Linked DNA regions of Homo sapiens: region 2 is linked to region 1. The links come from fine-mapping of genetic effects on gene expression. A gene starts in region 1. The other region holds a variant in brackets. All regions are shown on one strand. Distances are from middle to middle. Region 1 holds the start of STX7 (syntaxin 7). Region 2 overlaps STX7 (syntaxin 7).

The links.
Region 2: its variant is fine-mapped to the expression of STX7 in monocytes (TOPMed, PIP above 0.99). The same link has a PIP of 0.9 or more in T cells and blood mononuclear cells.

What each region holds. Positions count from the first base shown.
Region 1 is chr6:132,504,466-132,520,533 of GRCh38, forward strand. It overlaps STX7 (syntaxin 7), which reads right to left and starts at 8,651. Exons shown (of 10, transcript NM_003569.3): 1 at 8,542-8,651. It also overlaps the pseudogene RPL21P66. RefSeq lists enhancers at 7,899-8,400, 8,758-8,957 and a silencer at 8,118-8,607.
Region 2 is chr6:132,451,651-132,467,718 of GRCh38, forward strand. It overlaps STX7 (syntaxin 7), which reads right to left. Exons shown (of 10, transcript NM_003569.3): 9 at 12,343-12,425; 10 at 1-9,200. The coding sequence ends at 9,108. Among named protein-coding and RNA genes, the nearest start is that of STX7, 53 kb to the right of the region's middle. RefSeq lists a silencer at 13,880-14,174. The variant G/A (reference allele first, on the strand shown) is at 7,979.

The DNA.
Region 1 (16,068 bases):
AGGAATGTCCCTGCATACAGAACTGCGCACAGCAAAGAATTTCAACTACCGCCACCCCATCTTTTCCATGAATATGCACTGGAATACTGCAAAATTGTTGGTGGTCAATTTGTAAGCTAGCTCTCTACTAAGAGCCTGGTACATGCCCAGCATTAAACTAAGCACCTGGGAGATGCAAACAAAACAAAACACACTGACACAGTATCTGCTCAAATCAAGTTTGTCATTTAGGAGGAAGGATAAAGTTAATAATGCAAACCAACAAAAAACCCCACAAATCCATAAAAGATCACGTGCTAGGCTAAAATGAGAAGGGCTACAAAAAGAAAAAATGACCATCATCCTTGTCTGGAAAGAATTTATGAAATAGAAACATAGGATTTGGATGCTTGGTTATGACCAGTATGCAGAACAACAAAGGCAAGGACGTGAAGGCTGGGGTGGAGAGACCCAGAGCACGTGGAAAGGCCACATGCAGTATGGTATTTACAAAAGGAAGGGAAGGTTCCTGGCCAACCCTGGATCAGATGATTCACAGCTGGGACAAGGGGAAAACAACATAAAGGGAAAGAGAGGAATGGCCTAACATTTCTCGCACATCTGCGACACAAAAAGTATTTCACAGACTAATTTTTTCACAACCTCCTTCAATTAAGTGGCATTATTCTTGTTTTAATGATGAGCAAACAGCGGGCTTATTATGATTAAGTAATGGTAACCCAACCCACCCACAGGTGGAGGTGAGATTCAGTCCCAGGGTTCTGATGCCAAGGCTATCCATGCTTGCTACCACATAGAACTAATGCCACAGAAGATTTCTGGTAGAGAAGAAGCCACAGTGAAGTATGTGTCTTTGCTCTAAGGGACAGTGTTGGCAGGAAGTACAACAGCTGAACTGTTGAGACCATTAGAACAGTACTGGTTCTATGCCTGGAACTCTGGTGCACTTTGAATGTGCCTGGCCACGCTGAAAGTCCTGGTGGCTTTTAGATATTCTCCAACTTCCCTCTCAGGTACAGCTGATCTATTCTGGGCTCTCTGGGTCTCACCAAATCCTAGAGATGGATCCAAAAGCAATTTCATTAAAGGGTAAATTCAAACCTAAAGTCAGACAGCTGGACCACTACAGTGGGGAGACAGGAATAAACTTCCTTCCAGGTAGCCTTGGACTTGGGCCCAGACAGAACAAGAGTAGACATGGGGATTCAATGACACCAACACCATCCGGAACATCCTTGAAACCATGCAATTTTAAATGCATCTCCAAGTCACTTAAAAAAAAAAAAAAAAAAAAAAAAACACAGGTTTTGAATAGCCAAAGCAATTTTAAGAAAAAGAACAAAGCTGGAGGCATCTCATTGCCTGACCTCAAATTATACTAAAAGGGTATAGTAACTAAAACAGCATGATATTCATATAAAAACAGACACATAGAACAATGGAATGGAATAGAGAAGTCAGAAGTAAAGTCACATATCTACAGTCAATTGATCTTTTTGACAAAGTTGACAAAAACATACACTGAGGAAAGGACGCCCTTTTCAATACATGGTGCTGGGAAAATTGGATCGCCCCATGCGGAAGAGTGAAACTGGACCCTTATCTGTCAACATATAAAAAAAAAAATCGACTCAAGATGGATTAAAGACTTAAAAGTAATACCTAAAACGATTAAAATACTAAAAGAAAATATAGGGAAAACTCTTCTGGACATTGGTTTAGGAAAAGAATTTATGACTAAGACCTCAAAAGCACAGGCAACAAGACAAAAAACAGACAAAATGAGATTTAATTAAACTAAAAAGCTTTTGCACAGCAAAAGAAATAATAAACAGAATGAACAGACAACCTGCAGAATGGGAGAAAAATATCTGCAAACTACACATCCAACGAGATTAATATCCAGAATTTACAAGAAACTCAAACAACTCAACAAAAAACCCCACAAATAACCCCATTAAAAAGGGGGCAAAGCACATGAATAGACATTTTTCAAAAGAAGACATACAAATGGCCAAGAAGCACATGAAAAATGTTTAACATCAGTAAGCACCAGATAAATGCAAATTAATACCACAATGAGACATCATCTCACAACAGTCAGAATGGCTATTAAAAATTCATCCACAAACACATCTTGAACGGAAAAAAAAGAAAAAAAGTCAAACAAGTACAGATGTTGGCAAGAATGCAGAGAAACAGGAACACACACACTGTTGGTGAGACTGTAAAGTAGTACAACCTCTACAGAAAACAGCATGGCAAGTCATCAAAGAACTAAAAATAGAATTAATATTTGATCCAGTAACCTCGTTACTGGGTATCTACCCAAAAGAAAAAAAAAACCATTATACCAAAAAGATAATCTGCACTCATATGTCTATTGTAGCAATATTCACAAGAACAAAGATTTGGAATTAACCTAAGTGCCCATCAAGTGTCTATTAACATTCCTGAATGGATAAAGAAAATGTAGTGTATATAAATGCAATGGAATACTATTCAACCTTAAAAAAGACTGAAGTTATGTCTTTCACAGCAACACAGATGAACTGGAGGCCATTATCTTAAGTGAAATGACTCAGAAAAAAGTCAAATGCTGCATGTTCTCACTTGTAAGTGGAACCTAAATAATGTGTACACATGGACAGAGAGTGGAATAAGAAGACATTGGAGACTCAAAAGGATGGGAGGGTGAGGGATGAGAAATTACTTAATGCGTACAATGTACATTATTCAGGTGATGATTACACTAAAAGCCCAGACTTCACGCTATGCAATATAACCATGTAACAAAACTGCATGTGCACCCCTTAAATTTATATAAATAAAATGGCTTTATTGAGATATAATTTATTGAGATATGGCAATACAATACACCTACTTGAAGTACACAAGCCAATGGTTTTTAATATATTTACAACATTGTACAATCATCACTTTTAGAACATTTCTATTACGCTAAAAGGAAAGTTTGTAATCATTAGCAATCGCTCTCCATTTCTCCCCAACCTCACTGGCCAAAGGTGACTACTAATCTACTTTGTATCTTTATAGCTTTGCTATTCTGGACATTTCATAGGAATGGAATCATACAATGTGTTCTTCGAGACTAGCTTCTTTCTCTTAGTATGCTTCCAAAGTCCATCTGTGCTGTATCATATATCAGTCCTTCATTCCTTCATTATTGCCAAATAATATTCCTTCATTATTGCCAAATAATATTCCAAGGTATGGAGAAAGACAATTTTCTCTTGGTTCAATGACATCTTCCTTTCTCCTTTCCCTCTATCAAGTAGATCTCTGGAAAAACTGGCTTACAAGCCAAAACAAACACATTGAATGAAAAAATGTTCAGTTTGTTATTCATGTAATCTCTGGGGATGCTCCTCCATATACATGGTTCCATTTTAATCTATACCTGAATGAGTCGCACATCCATGTCTCCAGCTCGTACCCTTGGCTTTCTCTCGTGTCTACATGTCTGTGAAGCTACAAGAACTCAGCCATTGCCTGTGCGGCACACCATGGAAGTAGCAACTGGAAATTTCTACTTTGGGCAAGACACTTAGCATTTGGGCCCACTGCCAGAATCAAAATGAGATAATGCACATCCAGAGAACAAATGCTTTTCCACCCTACACAGAGGAAAGTTATGATCTGTTCTTGCAGCTGCAGGACCAGCATCAGCACAAGACCAAGAGAAACTCATCACCTGTCTCAAAACCATGCAAGCACACCTGAGGCCTACTCTCTCTCCCATAAAGAGTTCCATCAAGTCAAGGACAGTATTCTACAGCATTTTCCTTACCCTTAAAACTCACACCAGTGTAGCCCAAGTCTTCTCACTGTTTTCTTTCAAGGCCACCTTTTTTCCTCTCTGGAAAATCAATCACTTAGTCACAAACACAATCAATTTTCTTCATCCCTTTCCTCAAGCTACTAAATGTGAGAAAGTTCCTGCTGGTGAGACAATTGGCAAGTGGCTTCATTCACCCAAAGAGGTGCTACTTAGATTGACTGGAATTATGAGTTTTGTTTTACTTTTTCTTTGTTTGGCGTTGTTGTTGTTTGAGACAGGAGCACCCAGGCTGGAGTGCAGTGGTGTGATTACGACTCACTGCAGCCCTGACTTCCAGGCTCAGGCAATCCTCCCATCTCAGCATCCCGAGTAGCTGGGTCCACAGGCACCTGCCACCACATCCCACTAATTTTTTGATTTTTTTATAGAGATGGGGGTCTCACTTTGTTGCCCAGACTGGTCTTGAACTCCTGGGCTCATGCGATCCTCCAGTCTCAGCCTCCCAAAGTGCTGGGATTACAGGTTTGAGCCACTGTATCTAGCCAGGAATCATGTGTGAAGAATGAAAAGCAATTTGCAAAAGATAGAGAAGAAAGATGTGTAAAATAAAACAAAGTTAACAATGGCCAACACTCATCCAGGACTTACATTTCCTAAGCATTGTGCTTATGACTTTTAAATTTATTTTCTCAGTTAATTCTTATAAGCCTATCATGTGGGTATAATTGCTAATGTGATTTTTTTACATGAAGAAACTGAGGCATATCATTATGCCTCATTATCATTATAAGCAAAGGAGCAAATATTTGAAAATAACCACAGAGCCGACATTTTTTAAACACTAAGCCATACTGCTTCCTTGTATAACAAAATTGAGGGCAGGTGAACTCAGTTAGAAAAACCAAATTTGGGCTGGGCGCGGTGGCTCACGCCTGTAATCCCGGAACTTTGGAAGGCCAAGACAGGCAGATGACAAGGTCAAGAGATTGAGACCATCCTGGCCAACATGGTGAAATCTCATCTCTACTAAAAAAATTAACTGGGTGTGGTGGCATGCGCCTGTAGTGCCAGCTACTCAGGAGGCTGAGGCAGGACAATCGCTTGAACCCAGGAGGCGGAGGTTGCAGTGAGCCAAGATCACGCCACTGCACTCCAGCCCGGCGACAGAGCGAGACTCGTCTCAAAATAACATAACATAACATAACATAACATAACATAACATAACATAACATAACATAACATAACATAAAATAAAAAAAGACAAAAGAAAAACCAAATTTACCACTTTTCTGCATGCCCCATATGAAGTTTTGCTATTCCCACTCCTAAGATGAAGGAATATGTTTGGGATAACTACATGAGTTGATCAAGGTAACACAGAGGAATAGCTTACTCCTTTTCTCTATTATTCTGCTAATAAGTGGTATCTAAAAGGCAACAACAGTTGGCTCTTTTGATAATGAGACACACAAAGGAAAGGAACCAAATGGTTGTCTTTAAAAAATATATATACAAGCATAGACAGACAGGATAGGTAACTACAAATTGATTAAAAGCTTATGATCTCTGCATATAGGCTAAATGGATGCTGAGTTATTCAGATGTCTGCTTTCCACATCAGTCTCCATTACCTAGCCCAGAGCTGCTACGCACTAAAGTACTCTTGTTGAATACTTTTGAAAGCCCACTCAGAATTCCTATTTAATTGCTCAGAATAATAATTATATAATTCATTACCTAGACCTGTACTAACAGACTAGCCACTAACTAAATGGGCTGTTAAAATTATAGTGGTTACTAGAAGCAGAGAAGGATGGCGGGAAGGGGATAGCCAAAGGTTGGTTAACTAACACCAAAATACAGCTAGGTAGGAGGAATGAAGTCTAGTGTTCTATACCCCTAAAAGGTGACTACAATTAATTACAATTTATTGCATATTTTCAAATACTTAGAAGAAAGAATGAATTGTGAATGCTCTTAACACAAAGAAATGTTAAATGTTTGAGGTAATGGATATGCTAATTACCCTGATTTGATCATTACACATTGTACACATCTACTGATGTATCACATGTATCCACAAATATGTAAATCATTATCTGTCGATTAAAATAATAAAAGCAAAAAAATCTTATTACAGGTTATTTTAAGCTGCTAACAAGATAACTGATTGCAGTAAGAAACTACACTTTTACTCTACATTTCATTTTTTCATGTGACAATTTACACCATTTTATATTGTGTATCACTTAAATTACATTGTAGCTCTCGTTTTTAAAAAATTAAAATTAATTAAAATTAAGTTAAATGAAAAAAATCAGTTCCTCAGTCACACTAGACACCTTTCAAATGTTCAAAAATTCTGTGTGGCTAGTGGCCAGCAGCTTGGACAGCTCATTCATAGACCACTTCCATTATCACAGAAAGATCTATTGCACAGTGCTAATCTCCACATTGCAATAATCATCTTTCTATGAAGATATACAAACACTATAAAGAGAAAAACAGGAAGGGAGAATCAAAGTGCAACACTCAGATGAGAGTCTTCTCAAGACGGCTTCTAAAGAACACAAAGGAATGAACAAAAGGAATGTTAAAATTTAATCTTGAAGTGTCAAACACTACTCCCAGTTAAAATCCGATATACTGTAGAATCCTTAAGATTTCCATTTAGCATATATCTCATGCTCTATAAATCTACCCTGGGCAAAGAAGTAGTCAATTTCACTTTCTTAATCATTAGCATCAGCATAAACAACTGGACTTCTCTATACCCTCTACCCCAAGTAAGTTCTGAGGGGTGGGGGGTGAGCATTTTTTTGTCTGTTTTGTGGACTGCACTATTCTCACTGCCTGGCTACATCACAAGTGCTTAACAAACATTTGTAGAATGAATGAATGTACCCACCTCCTAAGAACACACACCCAGCGTGAGGGTAAATATTACCATTTCCAAAACATAAAATTCCAGTGCCTTCTTTCAGATACCGAAGGTCCCAGGCTTCTTGCTGCCTTGGGCCTTTGCTGGGTGCCATTTCCTATTTCTAGAAGGCTCTTCCCATGATCTCCACGTGACTGGCTCCTTCTCCCCAGCAAGGCCTCATCACATGCTAGAGAAACCTTTGTGACCACTCTGATATGAAAGTGAGAACTCACCACTGGTCACTCTTTGTCAATCTAACTTACTGCTTCACAATACTCAAAAGTCGAATTAATCACTGTTTATTATTTATCCCTACACCTCTGGAATACAAACAGGAGCTACTTCTGGAATATAAACAGGAGAGAGATGACCTTGTCATCCTGTGTAATCTACAGTGCCTGGTGCATAGTAAATGCTCAAGGAATGTGAGGGTGCTCTGTCTACATAAGTATCCTCTGCAAAAACTACATTAACTGTATTCTTTGGCCTTAGCTCTTTCATCACTGACCTTTTGTACTACTTGGTTTTAGTTCACAATACCGAGGATTGTTTTTTTCATACTTTCACACATGAAACTTGCAAATTAAATGGAATCACAGCAAACTTCACTCAGACTTACTGTGAATATTTTCTATAATTTACTTTTCAATCATCAGCACTTAAAGTTTGGGGTCATAACCAAAATAAGGATTGATTTTGTTATCAAGAGCAACATAAGTAACATATCTGAGGAAAAATTATGATGTTAATCAGTTAATATGGTATCATATTAACCTCTACAGAAACTGTGAAGTTAAGAGCATAATTCTTAACTAGTCACGAGTCTGAGGCCAACTTCTCAAAGTAGCCTATAAGGCCTGTCCACAACACAAAACACAGTTTAACACCGTTATCAGCCTCTGCCCAGGTGTGCTCAGAGAACCTGCAGAAGAAATGTCCACTTCCAACATTATTAAATAGCACAGCATTTCATAATTACTTTCTTTTCTTCCAGATTCTGGGCAAGTTTTATATATTATATATAATTATAGTCAGAATACAACGATCTGAGGTAAACAAAAATTAACGTATACAGATAAGAGCCAAACAAATGTAAGAAATTTGTGGGAAAAAACACACAGCATTTGATCAGAAATGCAACTTTTTTTCTTTGTCTGAATTTAAAGAAAGTAACTAGAAAACAAGGTGGAGGAAATACTAGAAATATTTTATGTACGTTTAAAGGTTTTTATGTAAATTAATTAAAGGTGTATACTCAAAGAATGTCAAAGTATGTTAAAGTCATCAAGCCAAATTAAAAAAACAATACTACGATCCTCTGAATAAATAAACATACACGGTTCGCCTGCTACAGCCATACATTTTTCAGTTCCTCTATATTCGGGAAGTTTAGTGTGTTTTTCAATCCGTGAGTTGAAAAGAGGAAGAGGTCATTTGGTCGTGTCTGGATTCCTGAGCTGGGCCCCAGCCGGCTCTGGCGCCCTCCCCGGGGTGCGCTCCGCCAGCCGTGCGCCTCCGGAGCTCTGCCCAGGGGACCGCGGCGGGTGCGTGGCTGGGTAGGCCCACCTGACCACAGCCGCGCGCACCCGGAATGCGGAACGCGCCGCGCCCTTGCACCCGGCCGGGGGGCGTGGGGAGCCGCAGGCGCTCCGGGAGCTGGGGCAGTCCCGCCCTTCCTAGCCTCCCGAGTGCCTGCTGCAGAGCGCAGGGCGGCGGCCACCTGACCACGCGCACAAACAAGAAGGCGCAGCAGCCGCAGGGGCACCGCGCCTCCCTGTCGCCCGGCCAGGGAGCCCCCTCCCCAGGGTCCTCTTACCTGGACCTCCACGGCTCCCTCCTACACCTCCGACCGCCGTCACCCACCTACCCCGGAGCCCTCAGCTGCAATTCTCAGCTGATGGGCGGTGGCGTGGGGACGCCCAGTGCGCATGCCCGCAGCACAACTCAGGAAGAAGGCGGGGTTCACCCCTTTTCTATTGGCCCGCGGGGCTGAGTGACAGCGGCCCTCACCGCCCCTCCGGTTCCAAGCTAAGGAATGGGGGTATCAGCAAAATTGCAAGGGAGCTGTTCTTTGAAGCCTGACGTAGAGATGGTGAACGCCTCTTAGCCTGCGTGCAAAAAAGGACAGAATGGAGGACAGTTGTCTTCTTTATCTGGTGAAGCCAGCCTTCTTGCACGCGGGTCTTCACCCCGCCCCATTAGCTCTTGCCTGTCTTGTTTGCTAACCTTTAACTGCAGTAGATCGCGTTGACAGCTCTATCGAAAAATGCAAAGGCGAGTACACAATCCTAGCAGGAACAATGAAGGAATAAGTGAAGAGTCATCTCTGGGTGCTCACTTGTAAACAAGTTTTCCTAGTACATACAAGTCATTCTAAGCATTCCTGAAAAGCAGGGCGTAGTTTTCACAGGGTTTAAAACAAGCAGAGACAGTTCCAATGATAAATATGCAAATATATTGTAATTGTTAGATGAAAAGCATCAATTGCTACAAATGAAAGAAAGCCCTCTCCAAATTAATTAGAAGATAGATTGGCTTAGCCTTTGCCTATATTAAGGCAACACTATTTTCTAAAATGATTACCCGGATAGGTGATATCAAAAGTCCAGACGCACTTAGGTGGAAAAAAACAAAACCCAGGATAGAATTCTGATTGGAACTCACCAACACTAAGTGTGGAATGTTGTCTGCTTAAGAGAGATGGACAGAGAAAGAATAACCCTGAAAACGAGTAACCCACAAGATAGGAAATAAACCAGGAAAAGGTAAACTAGAGAATGAAGGAAAAAAGGAGGGAATTGTCCATGATGTCACCTGTTACACAAAGTTCAAGTAAATAAAGAACTGAAAGTAGTGCATTGTACTTGAGAATTAGGAAGTGGCTGGTGAACGTAGGAAGAAACATTTCAATCATTGAAGGAACACATGAAAGGATCTTACATCCATGTGAGGTTTAGTGCACTTTCCAAATACCCATTCATATTACCTTTGATAGAACTCTGGGCTCCGGGGAGGGAAGGTACAATGCACTACAGAAGAACCTGAGATTAAGTGGCCTCTTCAAGTTACCCTGATAGTTACTGACTATGCTGGGCCCAAAACTTAGCTGTCTGAGCCCTCATCTTGGGCTCATTCCAATTCCTTGTTTTAAAATATGTTATGAGTGGATTCCTTCCAGGTCTTTTGAAAACTTAGAATAAGATTTCATCCTTTGGTATTCAAATGGGAAAAAAAAGAATTATAGTCTAGACAAACTTGCAAAATTTAGAAGTATTAAGATAAATGAATTACTAAGAGTTCCTGACACAGTATTCCATCTGTGAATCTGGCTGCTACCAAGTTAAATTCAGCCAGGTGTCTTGAAAGTGGTAGGGCTTTAAAAGTCTCCTAATTTGATGAGTGATAATGTCACATCTCCCAAAATAAATCATTTCCATGTGCAGAAGTTACCTATGACTGAAAGCTTGTAATTTGGATTTTCAGAAATAGTAATTTGCGAGATTTGGGCCTTCTTGGAGAGATTTTGAAGGAAACCAGAAGTTGTTGAGTGGGGAATGTTATCTGCACACTTGTGGTGTCCTTATTAATATAAATACCATAAATACCTCCTATGTAACATCTCTCATGTAGGATGGAGAACTGTCCACTGCTGTATCTCCAGTGTCTGGGATAGCAATTCCAGGGAATAGAAGGAGATAATTGCTGGTTCATTTAATAGTTACTGAACTAAAAATATTTTTTACATGACCACTATGTGATCTTCTGGGAAAGCCAAAGAAGTAAAAGACGCATAAAGGTAAATAGAGCAAACAGGGACTTATTGGTAAGTGAGAAGGACAAGTTGACTTATGAAGGTTTGTTTTTATTTATAATACAGTGGGAAAACCACAACTGGTTTAAAAAATCTATGCTAGATTAAAAGGAAGCTTAAATTAATACTTAATAAACAAGAGTTAGTTCAGTTGTGCCTTATTGTTAAGCACCTTCCATGTCTCTCTACAGTCTACTTGTTTTCTGTTTAAGATCACACAAGTGCCTAGTCATATATCAAGCACAGAATTGATTTTGCCCTAGCTTTTGAACATGGAGGTAATAAACAGATATCCCGTGGAAATCTTACATGGGCCATTATAGCATGATGACCGGTATATTTGTTTCTAATTTTACCTCCTGATGACTGGTATTTTCGTTTCTAATTTTACCTCCTAAGTGTTGTTCATATGTGCCCTCTTCTCTCTGTCCCTCACGGTTGACATCCTGATCCACTGCAATAGCCTCCTTGTTGGATCTTCTATCTCCAGGTCTTCTCAACTTTATTATTGTCAAAGCCACCACTGAATATTTGAAGCTCTAATCTGAGAACTTTGCTCCAGGCTTCATGCCATTTCCATGATTGCAGCATTCCCTGAACTGTATTTCTTAAGAAAAAAAACCAAAATAATTAGATTGGGGAGAGCTGGGGAATTGTGTGGGTTGAAATAAGGAATCAGGGAATTGGTCTACAAAGAAATGTTTGGGAAACATATTATATTGCATTCTTGAAGATTCACAGAGCATATTTGTAAATTAAAGACGCTGAGAAGTGGTTCAGGAAAGAAACAAGTAAAAATTTCTTTTACCCAGTATTTTATGAGTGTATTTGATGGTGGAACTTGCCTGTAAAACTTTTAAATATGCATAATGGAAAACACTGCTCTCAAAATCAAGTCCAAGCCCCCTGCATATACACAGGGTGACCATATATTTAGTTTGCTAGGACAGCCCTAGTTTATGCTTGTTGTCCTGGCCGCCTGTCTTCTGAGCATGCCCTTTCATTCTCAAACGTGCTTCAGTTCAGATGATGCATCATATGGTCCCTATACATATAAGGACCACATGGTCTGATCCTGCCTTTCCAAGCATCAAAATTTATGCTTGGAATATGTTGGCTTAAATAACTCCTCTTTCTCTGTCTGCTCTCCCCTCCATCCCAGCAGCTAGCTCCCCAGTCACAAACCAGGGGTTTTCTTATTTCTGTGCTTCGCTCACGTAGTTCCCATTAGCTAGAAAACATTTTTTCTTCTCCCCCATGTTTTAAACGATTCTTTATTTTGGAATAATTTTAGATTTATAGAAGAGCTGCAAAGATAGTACAGCACTCCTGTATATACCTCACCCAGGTTCCCCTAATGTTTCCTTAATGTTAACATCTTACATAACCATGGTCCACTTGTCAAAACTAAGAAATCAGCATTGGTATAGCAGTACCAACTAAATTAGCTTGTATTCTCCCTGCTCCAGCTCTAGAATCAGTCATTTTACTATTAAGCACTTCTTCTTTTTATTGGAAAAAGCTATTTAGAAATCAAAGGCCAGGACCACCAGGCACAGTAGCATGGCTCACACCTGTAAACCCAGCACTTTGGAAGGCGAAGGCAGGCAGATCATTTGAGCCCAGAAGTTCGAGGCCAGCCTAGGCAATGGGGCAAAACCCTGTTGTGATGGTTAATACTGAGTGTCAACTTGATTGGATTGAAGGATGCAAAGTATTGATCTTGGGTGTGTCTGTGAAGATGTCGCCAACAGAGATTAACATTTGAGTCAGTGGGCTGGAGAACACAGGCCCACCCTTAATCTGGTGGGCACCATCTAATCAGCTGCCAGCAAATATAAAGCAGGCAGAAAAATGTGAAAAGGCTAGACTAGCCTAGCCTCCCACCCTATATCTTTCTCCCGTGCTGAACGCTTCCTGCCCCTGAGCATCCAAGTTCTTCAGTTTTGGAACTCGGACTGGCTCTCCTTGCTCCTTAGCCTGCAGACAGCCTATGGGACCTTGTGATCATGTGAGTTCATACTTAATAAACTCATATATATATATATATATATATATATATATATATATATATATATATATATGTATTCCATTAATTCTGTTCCACTAGAGAACCTTGGCTATTACACCCATCTCTACAAAAATTAGCTGGGTGTGGTGATGTGCACAGTAGCTATAGTCCCAGCTACTCAGGAGGCTGAGGTGGGAGGATTGCCTGAGCCCAAGAGGTCAAGGCTGCAGTGAGCCAAGATCATGCCACTGCACTGCAGTGTGGACAACAGAGTGAGACCCTGTCCCCCACCCTACCAAAAAGAAGAAAAGAAAAGAAATCAAGATCAAGGCACTAACCTTCTCATTGTTACTAGGGTGTCAGTGCTTCTACGCTCCCCTCAATGGACAGAGCTAGGAAATAAATTTATATATACTAATTCATGTATGTAGGATATTTACTCCAGGCTTCATGCCATCCCCATGTTGGCTGCATGCCCCAAAATATATTTGGTAAAAATAAAAGTGCTTGGACTGGGCAGAGGTGGGGTTTGTGTGAGTTGGGGTAAGGAATCAGGGAATTGATCCATAGAGAAATGTATACAGTATACATTATATGCAGTATAAGCCTTGTATAAAGTATGTCTATAAATTTAATTTTACAAGAAACTGCCAAGTTGTTTTCCAGTTGTTTTACATATCCATAGCTATATCAGATTTTATCTATATATATAAACACGAGTTCATCTAGGCATTCCCAATTCTAATCCAACATTATAGGGGTCATTCTAGCCTTCCCTTGTCCTAATTTTTAGCTTCTTTCGCTAGAAGTGAGAAACCTAGCTTCCATTATCTACCATTTATGTTCTTATTTCTATAATGTAAAAAATTAGGTTGGTGCAAAGGTAATTGTGGTTTTTGCCATTAAACCGCAATTACCTTTGCACCAACCTAATAGCTTCAGAATTGCTAACTCCTACTCTGTGTGAGAAAAAAATCTTTAGTGCAGTGTTTATGTACAATTCTTTTTGTCTTTAGCCTTATAATATTGAGTCAAAACAATGTTTTCTAAAAATCACCAAGGTCGGCTCTTTACCCATCCCCTTCAGTGAAATTAGGTTATGTTGACTTTGCAGTTAAATTCAGTTGTCATAGATCTGCATTTTATCCTATGATCCACAAATATACTGATTGATTTTTTAAATTTGTATAAAGCTCATTGTTTGTGGTATATAGTTCTGTGGATTTTTGACAGATATATAGAGTAATGTATCCATAACTCCAATACCATAGAGAACAGTTCTACCATACTGAAAATTCCCTTTCACAACAACCCTTATTCAACCCATCCCCCTCCTCCCACCCTTGGCAACCACTTATGTTTTCTATCACCAGAGTTTTGCCTTTTCCAGAATGTCCTATAAATTCAATCATACAATATATAACCTTTTGGGTCTGATTTCTTTCACTTAGCAGAATGCATTTAAGATACATCCACATTGTTGTATAAATCTATAGTTTGTTTTTTTTTGTGGCTGAATAATATTCCATTGTTTGGATATAACACAGCTTATTTATCCATTCACCTGTTGGTTGTTTCCAATTTTTGGCAATTATGAATAAAACTTCTATAAATACTTAAATACAGATTTTGGTAAAAATAGAAGTTTTCAATCATTTGAGTGAATATCTAGAAGTAGGTCTGTTGGACTGTATAAGTGTATATTTATTCATTTATTTTTGCTTTAAATATTGCTCCGGGGGAGGGGCCACCACACGTCTACTCAATGAAGAGAAATGTTTTTACAATTTACAGGTATTTTTTTTACACCTATTATGGCATGAATTCATAGGAAATAAGTTCTAGCAGCCTCCTTCTTATTGGTTCTCACACAGTGTGCTTCTCTGGATGGAGCAGGCTGCTGCTTTAATTGAACTCAGGTGACTTTCTCCTTGAGATCCTTTTCTGATCGTTTTCCTTCACGTGTTTGAGGAAGCTGTCTCGGCACTTAGAGTACTTAATATGCTCAATATGCACATCAATTATCTTGGCAAGAATCATGCCGTTAACTTGTTTGTTTACAACAGTGCCAACAGTATGCTGGGTTACATTGTAGACTCTTCCAGTTTTTCCATGGTGATAGTTGTGGGGCATTCATTTTTGAACAGCACCCAACCTCTTGATGACTACGGTATAACCTTTCTTGTAGATTCGCATGTATGTGACCAAAGGAACAACTCCATGTTTTCTAAAAGGCCTAGAGAACATGTATCAGGTGCCTCTCCTCTTTCCCTTTGTGTTAATCATTTTGGCAAATTACTGGAAGATGGCAATTCTGGCTCTACATTTAATTTTACAAAATACTTCCAAATTGTTTTCCAAGGTGGCTGTATCATTTTGCATTCCCATCAGCAATGATTGAGGATTTCTGTTACTCTACTTCTTTGTCACTTTTTGATATTGTTGAATTGAAAAACATTTTTTTTTCATTCTCATGGGTGTGTAGTGGCATGTCATTGTGATTTTATGTATGCTTATTTGAAATCCATCTGTCTTCTTTAGTGAAATGTTAATTCAAATCTTTTGCCTGCTTTTTATTGGGTTGTCTTCCCACTGTTGAGTTTTAAGAATTATTTTTGTATTCTGGTACTTTATCAAATATATCATTTACATGTATTTTCTCCTAGTCTGTAGCTCTGTAGCTTATCTTCTCATTCTCTTCTTTTAAAATTTTTTAAATTTTCTTTCAGAAAAGATCTGGGATCTGGCTATGTTGCCCAGACTAGAATGCAGGGGCTATACATAGGCCTGATTGTTGGACATACAACTTTTTAAACTTCTGGGCTCAAGCAATCCTTTCTTCTCAGCCTCCCAAGTAGCTAGAACTATATGCACATGCCACCACACCCAGCTCATTCTCTTAATGGTGTCTTTCATGGAGAAATAAGTCTTTAATTTTGATAAATTTTAGGTTGCCATATTTTTGTTTTATAAATTATGCCTTTAGTGATTAATTTAAAAGCTCATCACCAAACCCAAAGTTATACAAATTTTTCCTATATTTTATTCTCAAAGGTTTATGGTTTTACATTTCACATACAGGTTTACAATTCATTTTGAGTTAATTTTTGTAGAATGTATCAGGTATCTGTTAAGGTTCATTTCATTTGTTTTTTTGCATATGAATGTCCAATTATTTCAGTACCTTTGTTGAAAAGTCTATCTTTTCTCCATTGAATTGCCTTTGCATTTTTGCCAAAACTCAGTTGACTATGTTTCTGTGAACCTCTCTCTATTTTTCATATTCTCTTCTATTAATCTATGCATATATTTTCTCCGACATCATGCTGTCTTGATTACTGAAGCTCTAGAGTAAGTTTTGAAATTGGATAATATGAGTCCTCTGACTTTTTTGTTTTCCGGAATTGTTTGATTATTTCAGTTTCTTGGCTTTTCTGTAGAAATTTTAGAAGCAGCTAGTCAATATCTACAAAATCATGCTGGAATTTGATTGGGATTGTTTTGACTTTACAGAACACATT
Region 2 (16,068 bases), 53 kb before region 1:
AAAACTCTACATATAAATCTGAGAGCTTAGATGAAATGGACTAATTCATCTAAAAATACAAACTGTCACAACTCAATATGAAATAGATAAATTAAACAGCCATATAACTATTGTAAAAGTGGAAATTACAATAAAAAGAACTCCCTCCCCCAAAATCTCCAGGCCCAGATGATTTCATTGGAAAGTTCTATCAAATGTTTTAAAAAGCGCTGACACCAATTCTATACAATCCGCTTTAGAAAACAGAAGAGAAAGGAATACTTTCCAGTTCATTTTGAAGCTAGTATTACCCTGATACCACCAACCAGTATGTCGCATTAAAACAGATGCAAAAATCCTTAACAAAATATTAGCCAAAAGAATTAAGCTATATATACAAAGATACACCACGACCAAGTGGAGTTTATCTCAGGGATGTAACAATGGCTCAACATTCAAAAATCAATCAATGTATCTACCACATGAATGGGCTAAAGAAGAAAAATGGCATTATGTAAATTAAGGCAGAAAAAGCATTTGACAAAATTCAACATAAAATTCATAATAAAAACTTGCAGAAAAAAAGGAATAAAAGATAACTTCCTTAACTTTAGCAAGAGCATCTACTTTAAAAACCTACAGCTAACATTATACTTCATGGTGAAACACTGAATCCTTTCTGCCTAAGACCAGAAACAAGCCAAGGATCTCTACTCTCACTGCTTTTATTTCTGCTGGAATTTCTACCCACTGCATTAAGGGACTGAAAGGAAAAAAAAAAGGAATATAGGTCAGAAATGAAGAGATAAAACTATTCATTATTTGCAGATGACATGACTATCTATATAAAAAAAAAATCCCAAGGAATCAATCAAAATCCCCTAAAATGAGTAAGTGGGCTCAATAAGGTCTCAGTATACAAAATAGAAAAATTCACTTTATTTCTATGTACTTAGAATAGACATGTGAACAGGAAATTCAAAATACAATGCCATTTACAATCTCTCTCAAAAATTAAATTGCTTAGGTATAAATCTAACAAAACATGTACAGACCTTGTATGCTGAAAACCACACAATACTGATGAAGGAAAACAAAATTTAACTGAAATGAAGTGAAGTGATCCTGTGATCATGATCGGGAAGGCTTAACATGGTAAAGATGTCAAATCTCCCCAAATTGATGTATAGGTATAACATAGTTCCTGTCAAAATCCCAGTAAGATATTTGAATAGATACAGACAAGATTATTCCAAAGTTTATACGGGAAGACAAAGGAACTAAGTGGCTAAAACAATTTTGAAAAAGAAAGTGGAATAAACCAGCCTATTTGATTTCAAGACTTACTACAGTAATCAAGATTTTGGTGTTGGTGGAGGTATAGACACATAGTCTAATGGAAAAGAATAGAAAACCCAGATATAGACCCACACGAATGTGCCCAACTGATTTCTCATTAACTCATTTTTGCTCAACTGATTTTTGACAGAGGTGCAAAAACAATTCAATGGACAAAAAAGAGCCTTTTCGACAAATATCATGTTGGAGTAATTGAATATCCATAGGCAACAACAAAAAAAATGAACCCAGACCTAAGTCTCACATTTTATACAAAATTAACTGAAAATGGAATATAGACTTAAAAGTAAAACGTAAACTATAATACTTTTAGAAAACAACATAAAAGAGAAAATTTGGGGGATCTAAGGAGAGAGGCAAAGTTCTTGATACCAGAAGCATGATCCATAAAAAGAAAAATGGATAGAGTGGACTTCATCAAAATTAAACACTTCTGCTCTGTGAAAGGCCCAGAAAAGAGAAATGAAAAGACATGCTACTGACTGGGAGGAAATATTTGCAAATCACACATCCAACAAAGGACTAGTATCTAGAAAAAAATACACACACACACACACAGAGGCACACACACACATTATTTAAAAGCCCTCAAAACTCAACAGAAAAAAAATCCAATTAGAAAAGACATGAAGAAACATGTCACTAAAGAAGAGATACAGGTGGCAAATAAGCATATGAAACAAAGATGCTCAACATCATTGCCATTAGCGAAGGGAAAATGGTAAATCAAAACTGCAATGAGCTGTCACTATACACTTATCAGAATGACTAAAATAAAAAAGAGACACCACCAAATGCTGAAAAGGACATGAAGCAACTAGATCACTCATACACCACTGGTGGGTATATAAAATAGTACAGCTACTTGGTATAAGTTTGGCAATTTCTTAAAAACTAAACATTCAACTACTATATGACCCAACTACTATATAACTGCTGGGCATTTGACCCAGAAAACTAGATTATGTTCACACAAAAACTTGTACACAAATGTTTATAGCAACTTTATTTATAGTAGCCAAAAACTGGCCCAATGTCTCTCAGCAGGTGAACAGTTAAACAAACTGTGGTACATCTATACTATGGGATTCTATTCACACTAAAAAGTACCTGTCAATAGACTTGATACACATAATAAGCTGGATTAACCTCCAGAAAATCATGCTAAATGAAAAAAAGCCAATCCCAAAAGGTTACATATTATTATGATTCCAGTTATACAGCTTTATTGAAATGAAAAAAAAAAAAACTATAAAAATGGAGAACAGATTATGGTTGCCAAGGGTTAAGAAGGGAGTAGGGATGGGAGTGAAGTGGGTATGGTCATCAAAAGCAAGATGAGGGATCCCTGTGCTAGAAAAAGTTCTGTGTGGAAACGTTCTCTATCTTAGCTATACCAGTGTCAGTATCCTGGGTATGATATTGTATGACAGTTTTGAAAGATGTTCACTGTGTGGGAAACAAAGTGAAAGGTACACGAAAGAGGTCTCTGTATTATTTCTTACAACAGCATGTGAATCTAGTTTCTCAAAAGTTTAGTTAAAAATACTAGCATTAAACATATTTTATACTTTATAAAGAATGGGCTCTATTTCAAATGTCCATACCATTCCAAAGGAAAGTATTGGTCACATACTCCATTCTAGATTTAAAGAAAATTTAAAACAACATAGAAAATTTCTAAATGACTAAGAAAAATGTTTGACCACAGATCAGGAAAAGACATAAGGACAATAGGGTAGCCCTAATTTTGAACAAAAAATGTTTGTTTATTGCCTCCAAGATAGAACATGAATTTCTTGAACAAGAAATGTTTATTGCCTCCAAGATAGAACTAACGTGAATGATATATAACTAAGGTTATCTTACTATTAGCAAATTTTGGTATATACCCACTGCAAAATAGTACTTAAATGTTAAAACTATGATAACCTTTATGAGGCTGAACATTAAATCTGGCCCTGGGAAGAGGTTGGATGTGGCCTGAGGCACATTGAAAATGCCTCGAAATGAACTCAAAACGACCACAGTACCTAGGTTTGAGATAAGAATGAAATAAAATATATTCCCCATTAAAATCTTGCTTATTTTTAGAATCATTACTGACAGAAGGATCAGCTTTGATCTGAGAGCTTTTCACCGTCAAGTTTTTAGCTATACAAGTTATTAAAAAAGCAAAAGCTTGCATCTTACTTGGATTAAAAACCTAATTTCTAGAAAACAGGTTCTCTTCTTTCTGGTCTGAGTTTAACATTTCAGATCTCCCATTAAACAACTGATCAAAAAACTTTCAGAGGGCATTAAAAAGTGAAACTAGGTATCAGAAAAATCTTAGTCGAGGCTAAATAACTGCATTTATAAGCTTTCTACCAATGCTATTAGGTGTTGGAGTTAGTAACTACTGCCTAACGATACTTACAGTAAACACTTAAAAATTTGTACTTTGGGTTGGCCAAAGTGGGAATTAATGCCCTTTCAAGTTTATTTAAAGATTCAATTCAGTTCTAGAAAACTCCCTCGTCAACAAGTAGAGGTGTTGTGCGTGTAACGACTGGACAGGAAATCTGGTTTTGCCTTCCACCACTTACATTTTAAGCATAAATGCCATCACTACACAAAACCTACGGGAATCCCACTCTAAGCAATTAAGTGACCAACCTCTTAAAAACTTGCCAGAAGCTACAGTGTCTACAAAAACCTATTTAGTGTGTTATTTAGCTCTATTTCTGCATTTAAAATTAGGATTATTTGGAGAAAAATATTACATAATATTCATGTTAACCAAATGATTACAAAAACAAAGAATTAAAATTGGTGTATTGATATGGTATTTGAATAATGAGAAAATGGGCCAATAGGAAGATTTTCTTCTTTATTCCTATTTGATTTAAAAGAAAAAGATTTGCCAAGGGATGGGTAGGGTTAAATTAAAAACATTTTAAGAAACATTTCTTTATATGGAGCATACTTACTGTTTTTGCTTTGAGTGCATTCTGATGAAATATAGATTCCAAATTCCCCTTGGATCTCACCCTTCTGTCTAGTGCTTTGCCCTCTATTTGGGGCAGTAATTCTATACATATCCTGTAAATGTCTGTCCTGATGATCAGGATGCCCAAGCTCTGAATCCAACTGCTGCCACCAAGAGAACGGCTCCTTTTTGGAGCCATTACACACAGATCATCACTCAAATCAGTAGTTTCTCTTTAGAAAACTAGCAATTTTCTGGTAGTCTGTCAATTAAGAAAAGAAAATGAAATTCAGTTACTTAGTAAGGAAAACTGGATAAACAGGAGGCTGGTCCAAACGGAGATTTATATTTAGACATTCCCTTTCTTCCTTGCCTCATTCCTTTCACACAGCTATTTCCCTTCTTTTAACACACCAAGTTCTTTTTATATGCCAAATAACAAAACATAAACTCCCTGAGGGCAGGAAGCTTATTCTTTTGGTTCACTCTTAGAACACTATGCCCAGGCATGTAGTAGCCTGGCAAAAAGCCGGCCCCAAATAAGTGCCAAATTAAGTATTTATTAAGCAACTACTACGGGAGGGAAGGAAGAAGGGAAGGAAGGAAGGAAACTGTGTTAAGTCCTGGGGCCCCAGAAGCTTAGTATATGTATTTTTTATTTTGGTTGGAAAAAAATGACTTGCTTACCATCTAGAGCCAATGCTTCTAAATTTTTCCATCAAAGAATCTTTAATGAAAGTGAGGAAAATTCTGAGGCTTCCACTTCACGTGGTTTGAACTGTACATCTCAGTGTTTGTTTCACAATTATGCTAGACTGTCAACTCACTTCTCTTTCTAGAATGTCCTCTGCAGTGCAGGTAGACCAGAAACCACACTTCCCACAAACTCCTTCTGTCTCTGGTTCTAAGTTGAGAGTTGACCATGAGAAAAGGAGAGACCATCTTTCCTCAGAGGCCACTGCAGACAGAAGTGTAGGCGGGCAGAGGACATGAGTTTCACAGCAGTTTCAAAATCTCTTGCAAGGCACTGGCTTTGGAGCTATTAACAGCTGACAGCTGGGGACAGCTCCCTGAGACACACTGTCAGTGCTGCACGCCAACAGCACAGCCTTCTGGATGTTCTCAAGAGTCACAGCAGTGCCTGGGCCAGCTCCTGAGATCCACCCACTTTGGGGCCGCAGACACCTTCCTCACCCACCCTTTTGATGTCTAATTCCCTATGTTAAAACACTTTACACTTATAATCCATCAAGTGGTTTCTGTTTTTCTAACTGAATTGTTAAAATATGCAAAATTCACATTAAAGAAGTTTCCTACCTATCTTGTGACCTCAGTGAATGAGATGCTGCTTTATCCAATCTACTGACTTTGGAAAATCCAGCTGAAATGAGGAAAGATAATCGTGCATGTCTGGCAACCAGGTAATTTCTTTCCTATCTTTCATGTCACAGTATTTTGAGGACACAAATTCCTAAATACTCAGAAAAAAATGGTTTTATCTTAATTGATTTATAAATTATGTTAGGGTAGTTGTTAAACAGAATTTTGTCAAAGAAGCAGTACACTGTAACACTTTCAGGCTCCCATTGGTTTAAAATTTGATAAGTGTATTTCTTTGCTGACAAGTCAAACTGTTCAAATGTTATGGAGGACTAAAAAGGCCTGGGATTCACAGGCTCATTTTTTGTTTTAACTGAATCATGAAAATACACAACTTTTTTTTTTCCAGGAAAGACAGATGTTATTTACCACCAATGAATTTTTATCATATTTAAATGAACTTGAAAATGTCATTCAACTCAAATCCCTCAATCAACTTACTTCAGCCCATTCTGAAACTTCATATTGCAGCAAACCAGCCATGTGAAAGAAATAAATTCAATTTTGACTTTCAAAAAAAATAAATGCTGCATAAGTTACCCTTGTGGACCTTAGCTATTAAGGTGGACAATGACTTTATTTTCTTTACGTAAGTTTTATATTTTATTATGACATTCATTTTTTCTACATGAAGACACAAATAAAAATTATACCAACTACATAAACTATTTTGTACTTTCCTTGCTAAACCACAGATGTATTTCATGGAAAGAGGGGCCTTTAAAGGCACTTATTTATCATTGTAGGTGTGTCTAAACAATTGATATTCAAAAACACAACTTTTTGTGTACAAAATTTTACAATTTTTAACAAAAGCAGTGAAGACACTAAATAACCCAGTGGCGACCTCTTCAAAGTGCAGTGTCCTTGGTCACCAATGCAGATGCTACTGGGGCAGCCAGCGGGCTCAGAGGGTCCAACTCCAGACACTGCATCCATGGCTGTCCTAGACTGAGTTGCACTTGTAAAAGAGATGGTCCCACACCTACTAAAAAAACAAGCTACTCTAGTATCAATATGACATCACTCTTTTACCATCAATCATATTGCAAAACCATAGTATTTAACGACCAATAAACAGCCAAATACCTAATGCCACATTGTCGTTCAATTTACCTGGCTGGTTAATATCAGTCTGTGTTTGAGTATTTCTTTTGAGCACACAAAAACAAATGTATAGTCACTTGATGAGGAAATTCTTCACTTTGACTCAAATGGATTCACCATGCTGTCAGTTATGAAAACAACTCTAATTTTAATCTCCACAGGGCAACCTTCACTTTTCACAGCAGTTCTAAAACTGACCTACAGAAAAGTTCAAGATTTTTTAAAAAATTTGGCTACCATACTATGTTTCTTATTTAATTTTCTCTAATCAATACTACTCTTACGTTCCAAATATTTCATGGGAAATTTTTCCCTCAAACTTAATATGTTTCTTAAACAAATTGAAGCCACTAAAGTTCCTGTTTAAACCACTGATAACTGCCCCAGTTAAAATAATAATAATTTAAAATGATTACACTTCAAATAAAGGTACTAAAATCACGCCCCCCAAATTTGTAAGCGCTTTTGTTGTTATTGGGTACTCACTGTGAATAGAAGTAAATGTACTTGACCTGTATGAGAATAAACATTTTATCAAGTACAGCAAAAAAAACGGAACTGATTGTGAAAGCCATGGGGATGGGACTTTAAAACAGCGGTAAGACGCTGGTTTATCACCAGAAACCTCATGTGCCTCTGTGCACTTGAAGTAAAGACCACATTTGAGCAGGCCTGGTGGGCTGGCACAGGCCTCAGAACAGGTGCTGTTTGTGTGAATTCTCCTCCCTGCATTGTCCATTCTGTTCTAGGGCAGTCTGATTCTGGCAACAGGAGTCTCTAAGTTCCAATCACTCACTCACAAAAGAGTTTTCTGTAATCCCTTTTGTGGAAAAAAATGGAGTTTTTCTGATATGCAAAGCAACTTCTACCAGTCTGACAAAGTAGGTAAAATCGATGACACCCTAAAATAAAAACCTGGAGTGAACTGGTGCTCCAGAAAGATGCTGAATGGCCACAGTGCATGTGGTGATGTCTCCATGCTGAGGTTTCAGGCAGCACAGCACTAAGTATCAGGTGACCTGTGGTCCCACCAGAGCATAGTCCTCATGAAATAGGCCTAACCAGATACCTTTTAACTCATCTTTATTTTGGTTGCAAAGATGTGGTTTACTTAGCTACTTACTATTTGTTCCCATTTGAAGTCTCAGAGCTTGCCAAGTTAAACACCGCCTTCAGTACCGA[G/A]CTGCTATACAAGAACATTATAAAATACAAAGTATAAACTAAGATAATCCTCTTTACAGAATTCAGATTAGTGCATTAAAACAACATTGATTTAAAAAGGGAAGTGAGATAACTGGCAAACCTCCAATTGCTTTTTTAATGAAGGATGACACAAAATGGCACGCAAGGTAAACACTAAATTTTGTCAGGTGCTCAAAAACAGTTAATTGTGGGAAAGTTACTTTCCAAAAGTAATTTTGACCTAAAAATATTAACCATTATTCTATAAGACATAAGGGAAGGTAAATAATGGCCCACAAAACCAGATGATATGGTTAAGATAACTAGTTTAGTGGAATAACAAACTGGGGTCTTAAGAATCCAAACGCAATAGGTATTGGTATTGGTTGTTCATACTCTTCTTCCAAATTATGTTAAACATTTTTAGTAACTACACTTTCCCCCGTAAACATCAGACTTAAATAGACCATATGTAAAAACAACCTATCCTTAGTAATTTTACTAGGCAATCTACAGCAAAAGCTTAATATATACACAGAAAGAGTATCAAATAAACTAGAAAAGTATTCACCGACTTCAGGGTAAAAAAGATCTTAAAAGAAAACCAACAAAAAAATGAAAGACACTTTGTGCTGTTGTGAACCAGAAAAATACAACCCATGTATAGACCTTAATTATTTTACATTATTGAGAATATTTTCCCTGCTGAAGCAAATCAAAATTAAATTTGAGAATTTTAATTGAAGTAACACACATCTAGGTGTGTCACAGTGACAGGGAGATGCAAACAGAATACACACACCTTTAAATTTACGAATTCCCAAAACTAAGTCAAGCAGGGTAAATAAATTATAAATGAAAGGCATATGCAATGTGGGCAAAAACTTAACAACTATTAAATTGAAGACCAAGGGAGTTATGTCAGCAGTGACATTTAGAAAATCTTTCAGTATTAGAAAATATCAGATTTAATCCAAAGGAACCACCCCAACCCCCCCAATAAAAATAACAAAGTATGGGAACCATCCTTTATACAATAGCTTTAAAATAATAATTAAAAAAACATGATTACAGGAATCTTCCTACATAATTTAGACAATGTAGTGCGACAGTGTGCTCCTTTATAACTTCAGTGGTTCAATCCCCATATGATGAGACTGATAATCGCAACTCCAATGACAAGGATAAGAATGATGATGCACAGGGTTTTTCTGGATTTGCGCTGCAGACGCAAAAAACAAAACAAAACAAAAAAACATGTTTACAGATTTAGTGGAGTACCTCTACAGCAACTAAAAATAATTTGGTTCATTTCTAGAGTAAAATCAGTAGTAGTATATTGCCCTCAAATTTTTGACTGTGTTTTTTTGTTCCTCAAAAATCTCTTTAATACATATGGCACTATTCTTTCAAAAAAATTCTTGAACTAATGCTACAATTAAGGGAGCAATTTTTCAACTTTCATTGGTAATTTTTCTAAGGGTGTGGCTGACCTTAAGAAAGAAGACACCACTAAATAAGTTACTGACTTAAACAAGAGACTGAGGTTACCTATGAATAAAAATAAAGAACAGCTTACGAGCTTAAACATTCTTTACCTTTTATTAAAGTTTTTCTTAAAAATGAGTTCTCTGAAGATATCAGTAAGTACAAATTGGCAACTTTTCTTCACATATATTTCTTTTCTTTTTTTTTTGAGATGGAGTCTTGCTCTGTCACCCAGGCTGGAGTGCAGTGGCACAATCTTGGCTCACTGCAATCTCTACCTACCAGGTTCAAGAGATTCTCCTGCCTCAGCCTCCCAAGTAGCTGGGATTACAGGCGCGTGCCACCACACCCAGCTAATTTTTTTTTTGTATTTTTAGTAGAGACGGAGTTTCACCATGTTGGCCAGGATGGTCCCATTCTCCTCACCTCATGATCTGCCCACTTCGGCCTCCCACAGTGCTGGGATTACAGGCGTGAGCCACCACGCCCAGCCCCTCACACATATTTCTTGTTTCCAAAATACAATGATTTTGGAATGAGTTTCCAAAATCATTCTCATTCTTTAATATTAATGGGAAACTACATTCAAAATCTCAACAAACAAAACCACAGAGCAAACAAAATCATAATGCTGTCATTGAAAACCGAATGGTTAAGAATTTTGTTCCGTTCTTCATTCCTGGTTCAGTTGTAGATTTCTTTAATGGCGTTTGTACCTCACATCAACATGCAGGAATCCTTTTTCTTACAAAGTAGAAAAATTTGTAAATTTACTTTGTGTCAAGTAGAAGTACCAAAATATTTATAAAAAGATACATTTCTGAGTCTGAAATTACACTGAAAACCATAAATAGTTTGAATATTCCACATATTCATCTAATTTTTCCAGTGAATACTCCTTACGTATCAAACACAATTTCTCTAAAATTTCAATACCATGCATAAATATTTTTCCCAGACTCCAGTTGGTTACCACAAACACACATGTAATGTACCTGTGAGTCATCACGGGTATCCCACAATGGTGTGTTTGTTGCCTGGGGTACTCCCCCTAGCGTGGGGTAATGAGACCCTGGGGCAATGTGGTGATAAGTGAACTTGAATTTCTCACCTTCCTTATTCTTAGGGTTCACCCAAACATATCAAGGCTTCCAAACAGAACTATTGGAAAGCTGCCTCTTTTCTCAGCACTTGTGCTGCATGGCCATCTCGTCCCGCTTCGGGAGCTGGGGGAATTAAGCCTAGGGGCAGCTTCCAGTCCTGGGGTGTAGCTTGGGACATGTGCTTTTTCCTGTAGGCTTGGCCTTCCACAAGGAAGAGGAAGAGTAAAACTTGGCAGAATATCCACATTTCCCCCAAATCCAAAAGCAAAATAAAATACCATGTGAACCTAGTCACTGATGGATCCTGTTAAGTTTCAGCAGTTATATGCTAACAGCTCCAGAAGACTTCTGGCATTTGCAGGGGTGTGTGTGTGTGTGTGTGTGTGTGTGTGTGTGTGTGTGTTTTCAATTATTCGTGAGGGATACCTAAAGTCCATGACACAGTGATATAGTGATATTAATTTCACTGAGCTGCATATCTGAATGACATGGACAAAGATAATAAACAGGAGTGACTGTCAGTGAATACAACTGGTTATAACTCAGCAATCTCCATAGCTTCATTATTATTTACTTATCACTGAATATGCAGTAATTTGTCCAGTAAAAGATGGACTGTGAAATAAAGGCAACTTCTAAGGTTAGTGAGAAAAACAAAAAGCAATTGAAAATGTCTGAGAAGGTGACAATATCTTAGATATTTTATAAGAAGTTAACAGCGGCTGGGCATGGTGGCTCCCATCTGTAATCTCAGCACTTTGGGAGACTGAGATGGGTGGATCGCTTGAGCCCAGGAGTTCCAGACCAGCCTGGGCAACACAGCAAAACTCTATCTCTACAAAAAATACAAAAATTAGCCAGGCGTGGGGGTACACACTATTCGGGAGGCTGAGGCAAGAGAATGTCTTCAGCCAGGAGGCAGAGGTTGCAGTGAGGCAAGATGACACCACTGCACTCCAGCCTGGGCATCGGAGCCAGACTCTGTGTCAAAAAAAAAGTTAATAAGGTCAAGAAAATGATAATTATGAATGATAGCAACAAAGGAATGGAGTTTTAAAAAGGAAATCAAATGCTACATGGTATTTAGGGGTTTCCAAAGAGCCTGGCCTTATCCAATTTGAACATCAAAGGTCTGCATATTGTATGATGTATTAATAGTTGATAGTTCTAATATTTGTATAGTACTTGACATATAATTTATATTTGACACATGCATGTGGACTCCCTATATTAACCCGACTCAAGAAATAAATTCATTCCTGGTGAAGGGTCTGCTGAATGTGGACAGAATATATAATGAACAGTGACACTCCAAGCTAATATGATTTCCACAAGACCTGAAGCAATCTCTCTAGGACAAGGAAATTTGCCTCTTTAGTCCAGTGTGTCACTGACAAAAAGAAAGAAAAAGTAAAAGGGAGCAGCAAGAAATGGGAAGGAGGGGCCTATCACAAAAAGGTTTCTGGGTAGAAATGTCACAATGACATCAGAGATCCCCGGCCATCAGAAAGCCTAGAATTGTCTCTGCCGCCCAAACACTAAACTTTCTCTCCCTGTGGGCCAACAATTCTGGTTCAACCCTGAGAAGAACACAGGCTAAAAACAGTTCTAAACTGACTGGTATTATTTAAACAGACTTCTCTTCCATGGGATTTTAAATTTTAACATCTTCAGCCATTTTAAACCTAATCTCTCCCTGCTTCCTCAACACAAACACACACACACACATACGAAAAGGATAAGTTATAAGAAAATTGATCACAGTTAAATTACCTGATAATCTGCTGCCCTTGACAGCTGCTGATTTGCTTGCTGAACGTGCACCTCTGCATTTTCCACATTGGCTTCTATGCTATCTGTAAAATAAAACACACACACACAAATGTGTTAAACATGGATTGATGCTCCAGTAACAAATCACTAAATTTCATTCAAGGTAAGATTAAATATGGTCATTATTCAAAGGTTAATAGTAGTATATCATAAAGTTGAATTTTTTTAAGCTGGCTTTAAGAATTATAGTATACACCTATACTATTTTTCAGGTGATCCAAACAATATAAGAGCATTTGTATAACAGAACCTTAATCATCTTCATTACAGAGCAACTCCAGCTCTACCTGGCAACCCCTGAAAAGTACTGTCACCCTGACATTATCAAATCAGTGTCAGCACAAGAGATGTCTCAGTGTCAAACTCCACAGCTTGGTCTATGTCAAGACCAATGCACAAGAGATCAACTCTCTTCTTTCTACTGCTGAAGATTTTGTTCATCATGATAAAAACTGGTACCTTGACTTTTCAAAGAATATTATGTCCTCAGAGGGAAACAAACAAACAGAAAAACCCAAATGCTAAAACTTGATCCCTTAATCATTATGTTAGTCATTAATGTTTCTCAATTTCTTTTCCCTCTATGTCTTTGTAAATGGAATGTAATTTAAGTTACTGGAGCATAATACCTATGCTCTACTTAGTTTGTGTTCTGTAATGGCCGACTCAGTAGCAAGCATGTGACAATGTTTATTTAAGGTAAATACAGAGTGCTGAAGGCCATTTACTCTGTGGTCATCAACATACTTCTGTGCTAAAATCTAGCCCTCACCGAGGGCCCATGAAGCCTTCTCAATTGGTGGCAGTTTTTCTTCCCACCCTCCAGGGGCCTGGAGGTGGAACGGGTGTCATTTTGAAGCATGAGACCCTTTGCCCTTGTCTCTTCCTCCCTACCAGCTCTCAGCTTTAAGGCTCATGCTATCAAACTCAGCCAACTCTCTTTGTTGCAGACATCTATCAATCGCATGGCCTTTTCTTCTCATTCCTTGAATATTTTAGCCTCTGACTCACTGATGCTCTCTCCAACACTTCTCTTATACATACTGGTGACTTCAAGATCCAACTGCTGACCCTTCTAACACCCTGGCCTCACAGTTCACTGACCATACTTTTTCCAAAGACGAACACCTTTCCTCACCCACCCATTTCCATGGTCACATCCCAAACCCTGACATTCCAATAATTGCAGTTGTTCCATAATCTCAATTTCAAGGGTCTCACTCTTTGATCACCACCTTCTATCTCTAGAGCTCACTCCTTCTAATTCCCTGGCTCCAACAATTTTCAACTTTCATTGATCCTACCACTTCTTCACTGTCCCTCACATATGGCATGTCCTCACTTCCCTCCTTACCCTAGCCTTAGAGTCCTTGGACAATCACTTAGCCTCAGCTTACTCTCATCCTTAGCCCCCTTGCCCCTCCACTTTAGTCATATGACAAAACCCCAACCAGTACCCATGCAGCTGATTATGGATGTAAAAAGGATTAACTGTGTTTCACTTTAAAGTCATGACTGCCAAGCAGGTCTACTTCATTTCTCTGACTTCTGAAAGACTACGTCATACTTTCTCTTCTCTCCTCAAGCTTCTCAGGCCTCCTCTGGCATTATCATTCTCAGCCCATGACCTTGATTTCCAGCTCTTTGAAGCAACAGGAACCATCAGAAGACATTTCCACACGTTTTCATGACCCTATCTACATGCAATATTTGTGTGTTCTGACAACTTTCTTGTTGCCAGGAAGAACTATATACCCCGAGCAAGAGCCAAATTTTCCATTTGTGCACTTTATCACATTTCCTATCATTTAACTCAAAAACCTCAGTCCAGCAAACTTCCTCTCTCTCTTACTTATCATCAGTATTTCTTTCCCTGGTAGATCACCTTCATCAATCCCATAGCTGCCATCTTAAAAACAAGCAAACCAAAAACCTCTCATTTATTCCACATCCATTTTTGCAGCTATGACTGCATTCTCTGTTTCACTTCCCCTCTTTACTCCTTGAAAGAGTTATCTATACTTGGTATCCACCACTGTTCTCCTCCCATTCTCTCTTGAGCCTACTTTTATCATGCTTTCACCTACACTATTTCACCAACACAGCTCGTATTGAGGTCACCTATGCCCTACACACTGTTAAATCCAGTAGTCAAATCTTAATCCTCATTTTTCTTGGCCTAACAGCAGCACTTGAAACAGCTGACCATCTATTGTTCTGGAAGCACTTTTTTTCACTTCCCTTCTAGGACGATGCATTCATTTGGATTTCCTCCATATCACTGGCTATTCCTTAGTCTTTTTATTTGTTCTTCTTCAACTGTCTGGGCTCTAAATCAGAGGTTAAGAAGCTTTTTCTGCAAAGAGCCAGAAAATGAATAAGCTTTGTGGGTTGTATGATCTCTGTTACAAGTATTCAGCTACCCCTTCACTGTGCAAAAGCAACCATAAACCATACATAAATGAATACATGTAGTTTGAAGACACTGTTCTAAACATTTAGAGGATCCAGGGCTAAGTCCTCAGACCCCTTCTATTCTCTACCCAGACTTAATCCCTGGATTATCTCACCCAATCTTGTGGTGTTAAATACTATGTGTACACAGATCACTCCTAAATTTAGATCCCCTGCCCAGACTTCTCCCCTGAACTCCATGTTCACTTTAATAATGTCAAGAAAACCTTCACTTGGTGTAAAGGGGCACCTCAAACTTAACATATTCAAAAATGATTGATTTATACCCATCTAAGCCTGCTCCACTTACAGATTTCCCCATCTCAGAAAACAGTAACTTCACCATCATAGTGGGCCAAGCTAAAACCTTAGCATCACCCTTAAATTAACTCTTTCTTTCACACTCATACCCAGCCAGTCAGTAAATCTTTTCGGCTGTCCACTTAAAAAATATCTGAAATCCATGAACTTCTCACCATCCCTCTAGTTCCATCCTAATCCAAGCCAACAAGATTGAGCATCTGGATGACTGCAATAGCCTTTTAGGTGACCTCCTTGCTTTTGGTCTTTTTCCAGCAGCCAAGTGAGTCTTTCGAAACTGAAGCAGGGTTATAGCACTCTTCTGCTCAACTCCTCCTTGGCTTCTCATTCGTTTGTAAAAACTGAAATCTTCCTACCTGACATCATCCCCTGCACTTGGACATGATCTCCATCTCCTTCTTGCTCATTAAAAATGTCAGGTATGCTTCTGCCTCAAGGCCTTTGTACTCGCTGTTCTCTCTGCCTGGAACACTTTCTCTTACTTGCTCCCTTAAATCTACCAAGGGTTCACTAAAATGTTACCTATCAGTAAGTACCTATCATACCTAACTACCCTGTGTCAAGCAGCAACAATTTCCACCCCTAGCAGTCCCATCCCTCTACCCTGGCCTTATTTTCTCCATAGCACTTATCACCATTTACTTGCTTTTCTCGCCTTTTTAAAAAATTGTCTTTCCTCCCATTATAAGATCAATTGAGATAGGGTATTTTATCTGTTATTTAATTTCAGCTGAATCTCCAATGCCTAGATTTGTGTCTGGACATAGTAGCCACTCAACATATTTCGGATGATGAATAAATTGGTTTTTGAAATTTTACCCTGTGATCTACTGGGGATACAGAGGAGGGTAAGAATGGATAAAAAATAGTTACACTGAAGTAAAGGTGCAA